Linked DNA regions of Homo sapiens. The protein of the gene in region 1 purifies or fractionates together with the protein of each later gene. This does not show direct contact. Each region holds a gene or a part of one and is shown on either strand. Other genes may lie near its edges.

Region 1 (3,651 bases):
CTTTTTTTTCTTTTATTCCTTCTCAGCTCTGCAGTATCCTTTGCAGTACTCATTAAGGGATGTTCCTTTAAAGACATCAGAAAAACAAACAAGCAGAAATTAAGTTTTCCTTTCAGAGTGAGCAAAGTACAGCTCAATGTGGCTTCTCTCCAGTTTGCCTGGGGAGGCTGACTTCAGGTATTCAGAAAATAGCACTCATGGAAGCAAAGAAAGCTGATGTTTGAGAGAACCTGATAAAGAAGAGTTTACAACATTTAGCAAAACAGCCTTTGTCTTTGTGTTGTGTAAAATTCAGAGAGCAAATTAAATGTGTTCGTGTAGTGGCTGGATTTTGGACCATTTCACACAGTCTGTGTAGTAATTTGCAGGATTCACCCAGGACTCTCTCTCTTGCTGATCTCTTGTCTGACCCCTTGGAAGACTGGCTGAGGAGGAGTAGTCTTTTTTTTTTTTTTGAGACGGATTCTTGCTCTGTCACTCAGGCTGGAGTGCAGTGGCGCGATCTTGGGTGACTGCAACCTCTGCCTCCCAGGTTCAAGCGATTCTCCTGCCTCAGCCTCCCGAGTAGCTAGGATTACAGGCGTGCATCACCACGCCCAGCTAATTTTTGTAGTTTTAGTAGAGACAGGGTTTCACCGTGTTGGTCAGGCTGGTCTCGAACTCCTGACCTCAGGTGATCCACCAGCCTCAGCCTCCCAGAGTGCTGGGATTACAGGCGTGAGCCACACCACCGGGAAGAGTGGTCTTAAATGTGCATATTTTATGGTGCATAATTTATGATGTCCCTAATTGTCACTACAAATTACATTCCTGAAGAGCAATTTAGCAGCTGGGTGCTAGTTATCTGAAGGTTTGCAGTTCTGCTGAGTTGGCTCAGCTGGTCTTCTCATTAGCTACAAGAGGCCAAACCCTGTACCTAGGGAAAGGTAACTTTTAAAGATTAAGTGAGCTGAGATGCTCAGTTCTGTATGTTGATGCCATTCTCACTGTCTCTTTTGCAGATCCAGCTCTATTTTGCTTGCTTACCAGAGGAAAAAGTTCCTTACGTTAACAGCCCCGGAGAGAAGCATCGGATTAAACAGCTTTTGTACCAGTTACCACCACATGATAATGAGGTAAAATAGCAGGAAGAAGGCTAATTAGAAAAAAGAAGAAAAAATGCATGAGAAGCATTGAGATGCTGCTCATAAACCCCAACTCCTCACTGGCGAGGGCTCCCTTTTGCCTTTCTTTAGTTAAAATTTGGCCAGAGAATACAGCTTTCCATTCTTTGAGAGAAAGAGAGAAAAGAGTATCAGTGTAATAAACTTAACACAAGTTGGTTTTTATAGTGTTTGCAGCCACCCACCAATGATCAGGAACCTACAAATTCCTGAGATTTCCCAGCCCCTGCATCCAGAGTGAATGCTTTATGGTCATTCAGGCCTGCAGTTGAGTTGAGTGCATGTAGAATGGAGAGTAAAAGTGGCAATTAACAAGTTTAAACCTTTTGTGGAAAGGTTAATGTCCTATATATATTTTTTAATTCTGTGTTGATAAGGGTTTTCAATTAAACATTTCTTATTTAAAAAAAAAGTATTCCTTCACATTGCATTTCCCTTTTTCTAGAGAGGCTGTAAAATTCAGATATGGTGTCATTTTAAAATCGTGGGGGTGTGACACAGGCGAGCTAAACTTACTGTTTCACTTCCTGAAACCCTAACTCTGGAAGTAGAGAACTGGTGAGAAAGACTGTGCACTCAGTGTGGTGTTTCTGTTTTGCTTTCTGTGAAGGTACGGTATTGCCAGTCTTTGAGTGAAGAGGAGAAAAAAGAGTTGCAGGTGTTCAGTGCTCAGCGGAAGAAAGAAGCACTGGGAAGAGGAACAATTAAGCTTCTGTCCAGAGCAGTCATGCATGCTGTGTGTGAGCAGGTGAGCAGCCCCTTCTCTGATGCGTAGCTTGTGGCAGTGATGTGGATGGGGTGGACAGTCGGGGGTAGGTGACTGGACTAGCAGAGGTGTGGGTCCTGAAAGCCTCCAGAAAATGAGAGAAAGACAGCCTAGCTTTTTATTAAATAGCAAATCATGTTTCATATTTGTAACTAGCTACACTGCTGTGTATGACAGCAGGAGTCAGTCACCCTTATGCAAACATTGGGTGAAATCCTGCCTTTGGTAGGATCCTGGCATGGAGGTAGGTGCTAGGATACATCTCGTATTCAAAAGATGCAGAAACATAATGAAGACATTCAGATCTTTGCTGGCAGTTCTCAGAGTAGGAAATGTATCCAGCAGGAGGCTGGCACAGGAAAACCACTATTTGTGTGAATCAGATTACACCGTCCTTAGAAATAGTTGTAGTATGTCTGAGACACGTGCCTTACAGTGGAGAATCACCAGTAATCCAGCATTAAAGAGCTATTTAATCACTAAAAGAGGTAGCAAAAATAAATACATTCCTGACAAATTCGAGATTTATCCTAAAGTAGGAAAGCCTGAGAATCCTGTCTTTAAAAAATGATCCTTTTACATTCAAACCCATTTGTTTGTAGTGTGGTTTGAAGATAAATGGAGGTGAAGTTGCAGTGTTCGCCTCCCGTGCGGGCCCTGGTGTGTGCTGGCACCCATCCTGTTTTGTCTGTTTCACGTGTAATGAGCTGCTGGTCGACCTCATCTATTTTTATCAGGATGGAAAAATTCACTGTGGCAGGCACCATGCAGAACTGCTCAAACCACGGTGCTCAGCATGTGACGAGGTAAAAAAAAGTTCATCCTTTCACACTGGGAAAAATAAGCTTAGATTAAGCCAATATTCCACTGTTTACATCAAGCAAAATACTAAAATTTCCTGGATTTTGTTCTGTGTGCATGTTTTAAACATAATCCTGTACATTCATACAATGAAATGATCTATATTTGGTTGCTGCAAAAGTAATTGCGGTTTTTTGCCATAATGGTCAAAACCGCAATTAATTTTTCACCTTCCTGATAGAAAGGGAAGCAGATGTCTTTGTACTTTGATAAGTATTATGTCTTCAGTGGGTTGTGAGAAAATACAAGCTGCAGAAGAGCATGTAGTAGATGGTCTCATTTTTGTTAAGAATTTAAAAAACAATATGATATATGTATTTGTTTATGCTCAGAAAAGGTATGGAAAGACAAATACCAAATTAATAGTAGTTACCCTCGGGGAAGGTGGGAATGGATGATGGCTTGAAAGGAAAAATTTTTTCCCTTTAGCTTTTTATTTTAAAATAATTTTAGATTTACAGAAGAGTTGCAAAGCTATTACAGAGAGATCCTGCATGCCCTTCTCCCAGCTTCCCCTGACACTAACGTCTTACATAACCATAATATATGTATCAAAACTAAGAAATTATCAGCAGTGTAATACCATTAACTAAACCATAGTCTTTGTTTAGATTTTCCCAGTGTTTTAACAGATGCTCCTTTTCTTATCCAAGATCAATCCAGGGTGCTTCATTGCATTTACTCGTTGTATCTTCTTAGTCTCCTTCAATCTATGACAATAAACTTTGTTTTTATTTTTATACATTCATTTACTTTATACATTTTTTTCAACAATGTTCTATTTGAACATATTTTTGTTTTTGTTTTGTTTTGATTTATTTTTTTGGGATGGAGTTGCTCTCTGTTGCCCAGGCTGGAGTG
Region 2 (3,651 bases), on another chromosome or scaffold:
AAGGAAATAAATAGGCCATATGGGCATGGCAGGAACAAGAAAAATAGGTAAACAAAAGATAACTGCAGACATGGTACCAGGAACAAAGGTTAGAAAGTGGAGCACTGTAAGCCCAAGAGAGTCAATCTGGGAGGCTTCTTGAAGGAGGAAGGCATAAAATAGGGCTGTGTGGGAAGAAGTAAGTCCCAAAGGAGAAGAAAACATGTTTGAGCATCTAGGGCTGGAGCCATGGCCTGCAGCAGCTGCACAAGCCAGCATGGGAGGGAGAGCGGCGAGGCATGGGCTGTGGTTTGTGGAGGTTCTTGTTGGGCCGGTTCCCCCAGCCTCTGGCCTTACCAGGTTTCTTTTACTCCTGCAGAGGAATCCCAAGTGCCAAAACCTCCTCCAGAGTCTCCAGCCCCACCTTCTCGGCCTCTCCCACCCCAAACCCTTGAGGGTCTGCAGCCAACAGGACCTGAGGCTGGGAGCCCAGAACGGGCTCCAGTCCAGAACAGCCCCTGGAAGGAAACCAGCCTGGACCACCCCTATGAGAAGCCCAGGAAGTCTTCTGAGCCCTGGAGCGAGTCCAGGTCAGGATCAGGGGGAAGGGAGAAGGGCAGGGCAGGGCAGGGAGTCGGTGGGAGCTATGCTGGGGATGGCTATAGGCTGGGCAGATGGAAAAGTGGAAAGGTGGAGGAGAGAGCTCCTGCAGTCGTGGGATGGAGGTGTGAGCCTTGATAGTTCCCCAAGGGTGCTGGCAGTTTGCCCTACTAACTTTGGGAGCCCCTTCCACTGCATCCCCATTCTTCTGCACCTCTTGAGCCCCTGAATGGAGGCATTCCTGCCACTGACCTGTCTCTAATCCTTTTGCAGCAGCCCAGCCACCACACCACAGGATGGGCCCAGTGCCTCCAGCCTGTGGCTTCTGGAGCCTGCCTCCTACCACGTGGTTCCCATCCGTGGTGTTCCTGGCCAGTGGCAGGGCCGCACCAGTGCCCCAGCCACCCCTGAGATACAGGGGAGGAGGGGCCAGTCGCAGTCTCTGAGGTAAGAGACAGCTTCCCCAGAGAGATGGGGGACCCACTTAGAGCTTATCGTTGGAGGGTGGGAGCTCCCAGGACACAGGTGGGACAACCCTGGGTGACACATGGCTAGTGCCTTGACTTCTCTTAGGATCTCTTCTTGGGGCGCCTCTTGACAGAGAATGCACTGCACCCCACTAAGCCAAAGGCCATCCATGAAGCAAGTGGTTTTCTTCCAAAGACTCTAGTTTTGTCTTTTTGCATAACTTGATTCAAATTTTCTACCCTTGCCATGTTTCCTTGTGCTGGTAGATTATTATTGGTCACTGACAATAGGCAACTCACTTTTTCAATTGATGCACAGTTGATTCTCATTATCTGTGGTAGTTATGTTCTATAAAGTAAAATTGACGCAAATCCTGAATTAGCAAATACTGAACCCTTGCCCCTGGGGAAATATAGGGTTAGGTTCCCGTGAGCCTTTGGTCACGACATTTTGCATCAACTGATTAATATATAACCTTATGTTATGTGAGTTTCTGCTTAAGGACACCTTACTTAATATGGGTTGTTGATTCATTAACTCATGGCCAACAGCACTGTAACTCATACCCAGATGAAGCTTACCTAGCACACATATTTTCTCCACAAGGCACACCACAGCCTTTTCCCAGTATGCCTTAGGGAGGAACAGTAGACAGCACTTTGGCACTGTATTTGGGGGCATTTTAAACAGCAGAATCACTAATCAAAGCAAAAACACACACAGTACATAAATATGCCACAAAAAGGACACTGTGCACTTACAGCATGAGAACTGAAACATGAGGGCAGAACATGGCCTCGTTTAACCTCAGAACTTAAAGAGACTCAAATTTGTCACTTTTCTGCAGTGTCCAAGAATGACCATGAAAGCACTGTGTATATTGCTTTGGGGATTAAAAATAAAGTTTAGCAACTAGGAAAATTACAAATACTGAATCTGCAAATAATGAGAATTGACTGTATGTTACTTTCTAAGTCATCTGCTACTTGGTAATAGTTTAAATGGCTAAGCGTTGACAGGCAGTATTGGCCATACCATATGGGGACTGGGGCACCATGAAAGCACTGCTGAATTCTCCATCAGCTTAAATTGGCTGGTCAGGCAGCACTGAACTGGGGGCAGCTTGGGACAACTGCTCTCAAGTAAAGCAATGGATTTTGTTTAATTTTTAAATTTTTTTTGAGGCAGAGTCTTGCTCTGTCATCCAGCCTAGAGTATAGTGGCGCAATCTTTGCTCACTGCAACCTCCGCCTCTCAGGTTCAAGCGATTCTCCTGCCTCAGCCTCCTGAGTAGCTAGGATTACAGGCGTCCGCCACCACACAGCAATAGATTTTATATTTTACATGCTACGAGGGCCATTTTACAAACCATGCCTTTGTGCAAATTAGGAAAAGGCAGACACAGCCCCATACCTGGGTGCATTAGTAGAGTGAAGTGAAGGCTGGATTTCAGCCCCTGCCGGTCTTGGGCTGCAGGTAACTGCTCTGGGTACCACATGACAGCTTTTACACGTTCAAGTAAGGTACCTGGCAGTGCCTACCGAACAGATGCTGTGGATGATCTGCCACTGGACACGGTGTACCTAAGCTGAAAGTACTTAATGTAGTACTTTAAAAAAAGTAGTTAATGTAGTACTTTAAAAAAAGTAGTTAATGTAGTACTTTAAAAAAAGTACTTAATGTAGTACTTTAAAAAAGTACTTAATGTAGTACTTTAAAAAAAGTACTTAATGTAGTACTTTAAAAAAAGTACTTAATGTGCTACTTGATGTAGCACACTTTACACGAATCACAAGCTTGTGAATGCAGCAGGAACACTTTTGCACACAGGGAAGGAATGCGTTGGCACCCACGCAGCCCGGCAGAGGGTTTGTTGGTTTGCTTTGGGAGACTTGACCTAAGACCCTTGCACGAGGGCCATGCTTGGGCCTTGAGGTAGAGCAGGACTCACCTGTTTTAACTCCACCTCCCGCCCCAACCCCAGTGTGGAGTTTCTGCCCCCCACACTCAGAATGCCTCTCTTTCCCTCTTCAGGGTGGATTCCTTCCGGGCGGGTCCTGAGGGCCGAGGTCGCAGCGCCTTTCCCCGCCGCCGCCCCACTCACTACACGGTGACAGTGCCAGATTCCTGCTTTCCCGCGACCAAGCCCCCGCTGCCCCACGCCGCCTGCCACTCCTGCTCAGAAGACAGTGGCTCTGACGTCTCCAGCATCTCCCACCCCACTTCGCCGGGCAGCAGCAGCCCCGACATCTCCTTTCTGCAGCCTCTCTCCCCTCCCAAGACCCATCGTCACCGCGGGGCCTGGGTCCCAGCCGGCAGCAGAGAGCTGGTCGCCCACCACCCCAAGCTACTGCTGCCGCCTGGCTATTTCCCGGCGGGGCGGTACGTGGTGGTGGCTGAGAGCCCCCTGCCGCCTGGCGAGTGGGAGCTGCGCCGCGCAGCCCCGGGCCCTGCTTACGAGGAGGAGGGCACTCCCCTGCGCTACCAGCGTCTGGTGCCCTCCCGCAGCCGCATCGTGCGGACGCCCTCCCTGAAGGACAGCCCGGCAGGCCGGGGGCTCAGCAAGGCCGCCGTGTCCGAGGAGCTCAAGTGGTGGCACGAGCG
Region 3 (3,651 bases), on another chromosome or scaffold:
GTTTCTTGGTAGTTTCCTGCTGTCCCTGAAGCTTGCTGGTCTTCCAGCCCCTGCATCTGTGGCTGGTGGATTCTCAAAAAAAATCCATGTTAATATCAAGCACAAAACTTAATTGGGAAGAGGGGTCTCCTGTTCTCCCCCCATTGCTAATTGATACCAGAAAAGCTGCTTCTGTCCTTCATTTAGGCAGATAATTGAGAACTTGTTTGCTTAAAGGCAACTGATTTTGACTTTATGCCTATAGGTGCCAGATATTTTTCATGCATCAATTCATTTAATTTCCATGCCGATCCTGCAAGTACGTCCTATTTTCCGATCTTATCGATGAGGAAATTGAGTCTCAGAGACTTATCCAAGGGCACTGTGTTTGTAAGTGGCAGGATTTGAACCCGGCAGGCCCTGAGATCTTTCTGCAGTCCCGTGCTCCCCTCCTTTATGCGGTTTTCCTTTTCCCTTTGAGGAGGGGAGGGAGAGATTCATCACATGCCTGGAATCTCAGCACACTTTGCCTTTCTTAGTTCGGAGTTAATGTATGTTTTTTTAATTCAGTGTTGGCAAGGCCCAGTCTGGTCATAGCTGGGTTTGTTACCTTGTGGCTCAGGGGCAAGGATGAGAATAGAATTCTGGTACCCACACGGGCTCCCTAGGCCTGGTGTCAGGAAAGAGCTAATACTAATGGCTCATAATTGCAGAGTGGCAGGCACCTTGGTAGTGCATGGCTCGTGGGAGCTTTCTCAGTTCTCAGCTACTCCAAGAGGTGGGGTGCATCATTATCTCTGTTTTGCCTCCATTGAACTTGCCCAGGGTTGAGCAACCAAGAGTTAGAAGCACCACATTCTGCTCGCCCCGGAGTCCTGCCTCTCCACTCTTGTGTCTTTCCTTGAGCAGCGCCAACCCTCCCAGGGCCTGGCCCGGCTGTGCCTTTGACAGCCCCTAGCAGCAGTGCCCATATGCTATGGAAAATGGGGAAGGATAATTGACCACTTGGCCACAGGCCCAGGGTCTGCCCACCTCTTGGTTAGAGCCAGCACTGAGCTCCCTGCCATGGGGTTCATCTTCCCACTGGCCTGTTGGTTGAGAGGATGGTCTCAGACCAGGCCCCAACACCACCTTCTTGCAGATACATCCCCAGTCCAGGGCAGTGCAGGTGGTTTGTGATGGTGCCAGCCCATGTTGGCATGTTGGGCCCAAGATGAGGTGGCATTTCTGAGTTTTGGAACCCCTCTTTCTCCTTGAGAGCCTGGCCCCAGAGTGCCCTCCTCTCTGTAAAAGTCCTGGTTCTAGTCGCTGGCTGATTGGTATGCATCCCAGAATCCCGGCCATTAGCATACAAGGCGGGAGCCAGCTCTCATTACTCCCCTCTCTTCATTGTTTGAAGTGGGCAGACTTGGAGTGAGCTTTGGAAATGTGGGCTTTTTATTCAATTTCCCTAGAAAAACAATGGTTAAATTAAGTAGGAAAATAACAGTCTCCCGAAATTGAAGAAAAATATTCCTGAACCTAGACATTACCCACAACCTTTGAATTTCTTTTAAAACAGGCATTTGTTTTACTTTAAGTTATACATGTATCGCATGACCACTGAAGAAAACACAGAGAAAATACAGAGAGAAGAAAATGGAAATCATTTTGCCACCTGAAGACAGCCTCTCTCAATATTGTGGTGCATATCATTCATGTATTCAGTGATTCATTTACTCATTTGGCAAGTATCTATTTAGGGCCCACAAAGGGAGAGGCTGTGTTGGGTTCTGGGAGTAGACGCTGGGAGTAGAGGGGTACCCTGCTCCCTGCTGGGGCTCTTTCTATGTTGGGCCTTGGGCAACTCACTTGACCCTTCTCTTATCTGTTTTCTCATCTGTGGAATAGGGATAACACTAGTAGCTGTGTCATAAGGCATGGAGATTTGACAAGAAAGGGCAGGTAGGATGCTCATGATATTGCGTGGCCCAGGTCAAAGCTTAGTAATGTTGGCTTTTGTCATGTAGGGGAGGAATATCTTTTCTTCTACCCTGTTAGGTTCTGTGATAGAGCCTATGAATTAAACTGACAAAAGACAGATTAATAGGAGAAAAGGCATATAGATTTTATTTAATGTTACTATATATATGTATTTTTTTACTGTAAGGGGTCTCCATAGAAAAGAAATGAAAATCCAAAGAGGCAGTTAGACCCAGGAGCTTACGTAACATTTTAACAAAGGGCGATAAATTGTGGAGAAGTGAGGAGACAAAAGAAAAGTATTGGACTCTTAGGGGTCAGTAAATTTCAGGAAAGTGACTAGGAAATGTATGGTAGATAAGGGTGGTTTAGTAAGGTTTGTTATGCAGATAAAGTAAGGTAGAGGGGTACACCTTTGCAAATGGAAATTTATGTCACCTTTACAAAGGGAAATGTGTGCCCTGCTTTTAGGCAGAAAAGGGGAGGCAAAGAGCTCTTCCTGTATTGGCTGCTGCTCAAGTACCTTGAGCTCAAAATAATTCTTTTTTTTTTTTTTTTTTTTTTTTTGAGACAGCATCTTGCTCTGTTGCCCAGGCTGGAGTGCAATGGTCTTGGCTCACTGCATCCTCTGCCTCCTGGGTTCAAGCAATTCTCCAGCCTCAGCCTCCTGAGTAGATGGGATTACAGGTGCGCACCACCACACTCAGCTAATTTTTGTATTTTTAGTAGAGACAGGGTTTCACCATGTTGGCCAGGCTGGTCTTGAACTCCTGACCTCAAATGATTCTCCTGCCTCAGCCTCCCAAAGTGCTGGGACTATAGGTGTGAACCACCACTTCTGGCCCTGGGATGGCATATTCTGATCCTTTTCAGTTACAACAGTGAGTAAGCTGACATTAACCTTGCCCTGGTGGTTTTGTTTTTGTTTTTGTTTTTGAGATGGAGTGTTGCTCTGTCACCCCGGCTGGAGTGTGATGGCATGATCTTGGCTCACTGCATCCTCTGCATCCTGGGTTCGAGCGATTCTCCAGCCTCAGCCTCCTGAGTAGATGGGATTACAGGCGCCTGCCACTATACCTGGCTAAGTTTTGTATTTTTAGTAGAGATGGGGTTTCACTATGTTGGCCAGGCTGGTCTCGAACTCCTGACCTCAAGTGATTCTCCCACCTCAGCCTCCCAAAGTGCTGGGATTACAGGTGTGAGCCACGGTGCCCAGCCTCGTGAGTCTTATATGATGGTGGAGGAGACAAAAATCAAACACATCAAATTTATAAAGTAACCACATGTTATGCATTAAGTCCTGTGAAGGAAACAGACTGGTGGATGGTGATAACTGGGGATGAGGGGTAGAGAGGGTGTATGTGGGGGTGGGGGTACAGGATTCGTTAGCTGCAGGTGGTCAGGGAGGCCTCTCTGAAGAGAGACATTTAAGCCAGACCTGAATGACAAGCAGGAGCTCCCCCTGCAAGGATCTGAGGGAAAAGTATTCCGGGTAGGAGCTACAGCAAATGCAAAAGCCCTGAGGCCAGATGAACTTGGCCTGTTTAGGAGGGTGTGGAAGAGGCCATGTTAGTTAGGACTGTTACTCTAGGTGCAAAAGGAAACCATCGGAGGTTTGTTTTCCACTTCCCATAAATACCTTTACTAATGAAATATAGTTCCAAGATTCCAGCTAGTAAAAACTCTGTTAAGAAATTCACCTTTTTCCAA

The links.
Region 2: the proteins of PRICKLE1 (region 1) and INAVA purify together in Homo sapiens (co-immunoprecipitation; one large-scale study listed by IntAct). This does not show direct contact.
Region 3: the proteins of PRICKLE1 (region 1) and ARHGEF10L purify together in Homo sapiens (co-immunoprecipitation; one large-scale study listed by IntAct). This does not show direct contact.

What each region holds. Positions count from the first base shown.
Region 1 is NC_000012.12:42,467,710-42,471,360, reverse strand, and holds part of PRICKLE1 (prickle-like protein 1), read left to right. Parts: intron 1-1,001; coding exon 1,002-1,115; intron 1,116-1,773; coding exon 1,774-1,911; intron 1,912-2,531; coding exon 2,532-2,735; intron 2,736-3,651. UniProt on the Homo sapiens protein: Involved in the planar cell polarity pathway that controls convergent extension during gastrulation and neural tube closure.
Region 2 is NC_000001.11:200,908,372-200,912,022, forward strand, and holds part of INAVA (innate immunity activator protein), read left to right. Parts: intron 1-358; coding exon 359-569; intron 570-852; coding exon 853-1,026; intron 1,027-3,081; coding exon 3,082-3,651. UniProt on the Homo sapiens protein: Expressed in peripheral macrophages and intestinal myeloid-derived cells, is required for optimal PRR (pattern recognition receptor)-induced signaling, cytokine secretion, and bacterial clearance.
Region 3 is NC_000001.11:17,546,164-17,549,814, forward strand, and holds part of ARHGEF10L (rho guanine nucleotide exchange factor 10-like protein), read left to right. Parts: intron 1-3,651.